2 separate regions of the Homo sapiens genome follow, and region 2 is linked to region 1. Evidence: fine-mapped expression QTL. A gene starts in region 1. The other region holds a variant in brackets. All regions are shown on one strand. Distances are from middle to middle.

Region 1 (2,915 bases):
GAACATCTATTGTAAAGCAGTCTGTAGCATGCTGATCATCCTCAACATAAAATAAAATAGGCAAGGCAAATTAAAAATAAAAATAAACTCTCAGAGACTCTGGTAGGAGCCCTATACCTTCTCACACCCTTCTTTCATTCTATACCCTGCGATTAAAAGTTTGAGTTACCCCCACCGTTGCACGTCCTATCCAGTGGGAAAAACCCTTTTAGAGCCACAATCAAAGAACAGCTCACCAGAAAAGCCCCTGAAATTATATTCTTGTGCCTGGTAATCACTGTTGTGATCTGCTTTCTAAAAACCGTGCCCATCTGCAAAAGACGTTCCTGATATCAGGACCATTTATGCTGCCAAATAACAACAAAGAAACTGAACTCAAGTGAAACTATTATCTCTCCTTAAAGAGAAAGCTACAATTCCGGGTTTGCTGCTTTCTTCTTATGTCTTCCTCTGCCTCATTAACTCCATTGGTATGTCACTAATTTCAAAGAAGCAGGAAGAAGTGATGGGGGTGGGGGTTAACTAATAATTCACACGCCTGTCTGTTTCCCATCCCAAGTGCAGAACGATACCACGCTGATCGCCAGACCGTGGGTCAAGCCATACCTTGGTTTGGAGATAATGAGGATAGTAGTAAGTGTACTGGGGGTACATTTGTGGCTGATCCAGGCGTTTGCCCATGTAGCTGGAATCTTTATCTCCGAGGCAGGGAACTGGATGACAGGGTATAGTGCCCCAGGCCGAGCTTCCTCTTAAACCACTATTCCTGACAGTCCCGGTGACTGATGAGGCTTCAGAGACTCCACCACTCGCTAGTTCCAACACAGCAAGAATTTTTTTAAAAAACAAAACAAAACAAAAAACACACACCAAAGGAAAAAAAAAAAGGGCGAGGAGTGAGATCTGTAGAAAAAACACCCACACACAGCCTTCCCAGATCTTGCCTGGCTTCCCCCAGCTGCCGGGGTCCACTTGGGATGAGGCAGTTTGTTCTCTAACCAGGCTGTCTGTAGTGATGTCAATTGCCAGCGTTCGTAAAGGGGGAAAAAAATCAAAGTCCTTTTAGCACAACTCCGAATCCTTGCAGATCAGCTTCCTGTCTCTTGGTTGTCTCTTTCCCCACCTTAAAGAAAAAGAAAAAAGAGAGAGAGAAAGAGAAAGAAAGAAAGAAAAAGAAAGAAAGAAAGAAAAAGAAAGGGGAAAAAGAAAAAAAAAAAGAAAAAAAGGAAGAAAAAAAAAAAAAAAAAACCTTGTACAGCTTAGTTGCTGCTGTCTCCCTCCCAGAGTGACATGGTGTTCGGGGCTTGTCCTGTCCTTTCATTCACTTCCCCTCCTTCCAGCCGGTGGGTGGAACCGAGAGAGCCTCTCCAGGGAGCAGCGTACGCAGTCCAGAAGGCTGCAGTATTTCCTCCAAGAAAAAAAAAAAAAAAGGCTGCTTCAACCCCTGCTGCAAGCAAAGTTCCGATTCCCTCTGCTGGCTATCTCGAATAGCAAGCGATTTTTGCAGCAACGCTGCTGCCGCTGGAACTGAACCTGAAGAACTCAAATGCGGGCGGTGGATTATTTCTTATCCCTCCTCCATCTACCCCACACAAGAGCTGCTTTTTGTTCCTCTTTTTGCCAAGTTCCAAGGTAAGCCACACTGCTAAACAAAACACAGAAGAGAGGGAAGAGAGGACGAAAGAAGGAAGGAGGAGAAAGGAAAAGAAATAAAGGCAGGGGAACTAACCTTGCTGGTTAAAGGGGAAAAAAGTAAGTCCCGGATGCTTTCAAAATCTGTTAACACGCTAGAGCCAGACGCATCCAAGAGCTGATTGAGAAACTAACCTTTTACTACCTGGAAAACTTGGTGGATGTTAAGTATTGAAGAAATTTTAGGGTCTACTCCAGGACTACTATTAATGCCACATGTCATCAGATTGGACTGATCAACTGAACATATCAAAAATAATAACTTTTTTAAAATACATCCATTTTGTAAAAAAAAAAAAAAAAAAAATCAAAGGAAGTGACCCCTTAGGTTCGTCAGATATTTTACAGATAAAATCTGTTTCTCCCATTGTCTCTCTCTTTATGATTATTTTGTTGCATTGATGCTTTAATCACTTTACTGATATCATCTAAAAAAAAAAGAACAAAAATCATAATTGCTTGGCAGAGTTTTTTCCCACCAATGATAATATTCTGTCATGTCTATCAGCTGCTACATTATAATACAAATTGTTTCAGATAAAATATATTTCCTTAAAGGGTCCCTTTTCAAGGCGGGCGAGGCTAAAATTAGATGTGCCAGCTGTGTTTTGCTGCGAGTGCTCACGCATGCCCAAAGCGTGGGCAGACCAATACTGAGCTCTTTTCTACTTTGTCAAGTCGGCTCTGTTCTCCTGAGCCCAGAGTCTCCTATTTAGATAAAAGGTCCCTGGTACAAATCCAGCTTCCTAGTCAAGAAGAACAGAGAATTTGGGCTCAGTGCACACATGGTGTCCATCCACATACAAGCCGCACCACCCCTAAAGCAACTGGCTTCCACCGAGGGGAACTGGTTTCTGGAAGCTGTGTGAGTGCATACGTGTTCCTTGGATAAAAATAAGGATGGCAGGTAAATAGTTTTATGTTTTACTTTTGACAAGAATAACAATCAGAAGGAAGGAAGGATGGAGGGTGAGAGGGTAAGAGTTAGGAGGCCCTGACAACATGGTGATTGAGAATATTAAATCAACCCCACCTATCTCTTAAATGTATTATTTGGGGCCTCAGTTGTCCCATCTATAAAATAGAAATACTGCCAACTCTCCTGGCTGAAGGCAGTACACTGAATCAGACACTAAAAATGACACTGATTTAAAAATCCTCCAGTGGTGTCACGTTTCTCAAACAATAAAGTCCTGACTCTTTGGAATAGGTTTCAGGACACT
Region 2 (2,915 bases), 65 kb before region 1:
TAAATATCTTTAAATATTATAGACCTAGAAATAGCACACTTACCTACACATATTTATGTGGCACTTGAAGAATACTGATTTACATGAAACTTAAAAGTGCTAGAAAGTTAACTTGATGCTTTTCAAAAATTCTTTTAAACAATTTCAGATCTTATTTTAAAAAGAAAATGAAATAAATGACAGGAATTGGCATGATGTTTATGACTTCCCCATTATTTGTCTCTCTCATCAGCCTCCAGAGTCTTCATATTTCCTTTTGGTCACCAAAGGAATTCCCAACATTCTTGGTGAAACTCCTTGTTCATGTAGCCAAAGGCATTAACTGAAAACCTACCACCAGGCTTCACAGAGCACAACTAGAAAAAAACCTGAAATCTGGCAAGAACTTGTTTTTCATAGTGCTTTTAGTTAGAAACATATGGTCAATAGCCATTTAAATGTTATGTTTGCAGGCCAAAGGAGTTCTTTCACGTAATGTTTACTTTGTGTACAAAGAGCTTCAACACCACAATAGCATACATTTGCTTTTATAGAAACTAAGAAATGTTTTAACTAAATTGTGTCTGCAAAGAGTTCTGAAACATGCCCCTGCTAATGCTCATTAATAATCTCTAAAACCGATTGGTCCATGATAGTTCAGGTTTTCTGAAGATATAAGAATGAATTGCTGGCCAGGCGCGGTGGCTCACGCCTGTAATCCCAGGCCAAGGTGAGTGGATCACCTGAGGTCAGGAGTTCGAGACCAGTCCGGTCAACCTGTTGAAACCCCATCTCTACTAAAAATACAAAAATTAGCTGGGCATGGTGGTCGGCACCTGTAATCCCAGCTACTCGAGAGGCTGAGGCAGGAGAATCACTTGAACCCGGGAGGCGGAGGTTGCAGTGAGCTGAGATCGCGCCACTACATTCCAGCCTGGGCGACAAAGCAAGACTCCATCTCAAAAAAAAAAAAAAAAAAAAAAAAAGAATGAATTGCCTTTACTAGGATTCACAATAAAACAGAAATAATCAAGAAAATGAAAGCATAACTGGAAGAAAAATTTCTCAGTCCTATTATTTAGGCATACTTAAAAATATGGCTTTGGTTGCCTCAGCAAACACACAAAATATTGAGGCCCTACTATGTGCTAAGCCATCTGATGGTAATTTGGGGTACTTGTATTCTCTCTGGAGAAGCAATATGCAAGTAAATAGTTATTGTGATTGAGAACTGTCTTATGT[C/T]AATATGGGCCAACTCCAGTTCTATGCAAGTATTCCCTTTGTTTCTTGAACGTGGCTGCACGCCTATGCCCAGTCAGCCACCTGGCAAAAGGGGCTGGGATAATAGACCTAAAGACTCACAGGAAAACCAACATAACAATAATCATAGTTTTAAACTTTGCAGTATCCTCTTGATAAAAGAAGAATGACATTGTTTTAACATACATCTTCACTTTTCCCTTCTCTATATAAAAAAATTGGCTCCTCTGGCCATTTGTACAGTCTGGGGGTATAACCAAACCATTTTTCTAATTAGTTTGAAACACTTCTCTTACTCCAATTAATCATTTTAATTATGCTGTCAACATCTGTGTCGGGACTTCAATCAAACCTGTTTCCTTAATGGCCTCCTCTGGCCATGAATTGTCAGTCTGTCCCTTAAAACATCAGACCCACACATAAACCTGGTTACATGAATTTTCTGGGAGTCTCTAGTAAGTTTCATTAGAGCATGGTGAGCTTTCCATTTGGATGAGAAAATTACATGCAAGGCAAGTAAAATATACAGATGGAAAGAGCTGTCTCCTATGACAGGGCTTCTCATGGAGAGAGGCATTTTATGTCTTTCAGAGGAATCCCCATAAAAGCAATGGGGGAAAAAATTAAGGTTTTAGGTAAAGTATAGCTGAGAGGAAGAAACAGTGAGAGACAAAGAGTGGGGGAAAAAAAAATCCTCCTCCTTTTAAACTGCTAGAATGTAGAGCTTCTTGTTATTAAATATTTCTCAGTCAAGAAAACTGAAATCTATAGCATTTCTGTGACAGAAGCAGATAAAGCCATGAGTTTTCAAGAGACAATTTATTCATTCTTAGTCTTTCTGTTCTCTTCACAAGGGAAATTATAGACAAGACTATCAGGTAGAATTCATTGAATAAATAATGCAAATTGCTGCCCCTTAGCTCTAGAGATCATTTAAAATAATAAAGGAAGTATAGATGAATGGGAGGACCCCAGTCAATAGCTCACTTCCACCATAACTAACAAGTCAGGCTTGAAGGAAAATAGTACAGCAGTAATTTAACTTCAGGGTCTTTAACAAGACAAATATCGCTGCCATCACAGTTGGCTAAATGGTGTTATCAGGATGACTGAAATTCAACAACTGATAATTAAGAATCCTCCAGCCCTTTGTGGAAAGACATTTTGTTGAGCTACAGAGAAATCTGTAGGTCCTGGGCTTGAGTTAAAGGGGACAGCCACTGGGACTGTCTACACACTGTCTTTTCTGAAGAAGTTCCTTATGGAGAAAATGACAAGATAACCTATTTTATTTATTTCCTCTATGCTTAAATGTTGAAAAATTTAAATAATCCTTTTTGGAAAGAGAGAAAGGGAAATATGTACATGAAAATTATAAGCTTAAGCTACTCCCAGAAAAATACCAGTGACTACCTCAATCCCTTGCCTTGTGGTCTGGGTGGCAAATACTGGTAAATATATACAAAAAAGGATAGTCACCTTTCTAAGGGTAGCCTGGTTGCACATAATAGCTAATTGATTTTGGACTGCATTTAAGACATTATCCTCAAAAAAGGGAATATCATTTATAGACACAAGAGTCTTATGAAGCTAAAAATAGTAGCCATGATTGGGAACTTGCTCTCTACCAGCAGTTCCCAAAAGAAGATTCAAAACTGCTGAACTGAAGCAGAACC

Alleles and levels. Positions count from the first base shown, and alleles are read on the strand shown. Sizes are in standard deviations (SD) of each study's normalised expression.
For the expression in iPS cells of the gene that starts at base 1,292 in region 1, allele T in region 2 goes with a higher level than allele C (moderate effect, 0.51 SD a copy in HipSci).

Evidence for each region. PIP is the estimated chance that this variant, and not a neighbour inherited with it, causes the effect.
Region 2: its variant is fine-mapped to the expression of RBMS3 in iPS cells (HipSci, PIP 0.95).

What each region holds. Positions count from the first base shown.
Region 1 is chr3:29,279,448-29,282,362 of GRCh38, reverse strand. It overlaps RBMS3 (RNA binding motif single stranded interacting protein 3), which reads right to left and starts at 1,292. Exons shown (of 15, transcript NM_001003793.3): 1 at 607-1,292. The coding sequence starts at 681. It overlaps RBMS3-AS3 (RBMS3 antisense RNA 3), which reads left to right and starts at 1,424. Exons shown (of 3, transcript NR_109804.1): 1 at 1,424-1,632. RefSeq lists an enhancer at 2,388-2,437.
Region 2 is chr3:29,344,447-29,347,361 of GRCh38, reverse strand. The region is part of intron 1 of RBMS3 (RNA binding motif single stranded interacting protein 3); the gene reads right to left. Among named protein-coding and RNA genes, the nearest start is that of RBMS3, 65 kb to the right of the region's middle. The variant C/T (reference allele first, on the strand shown) is at 1,222.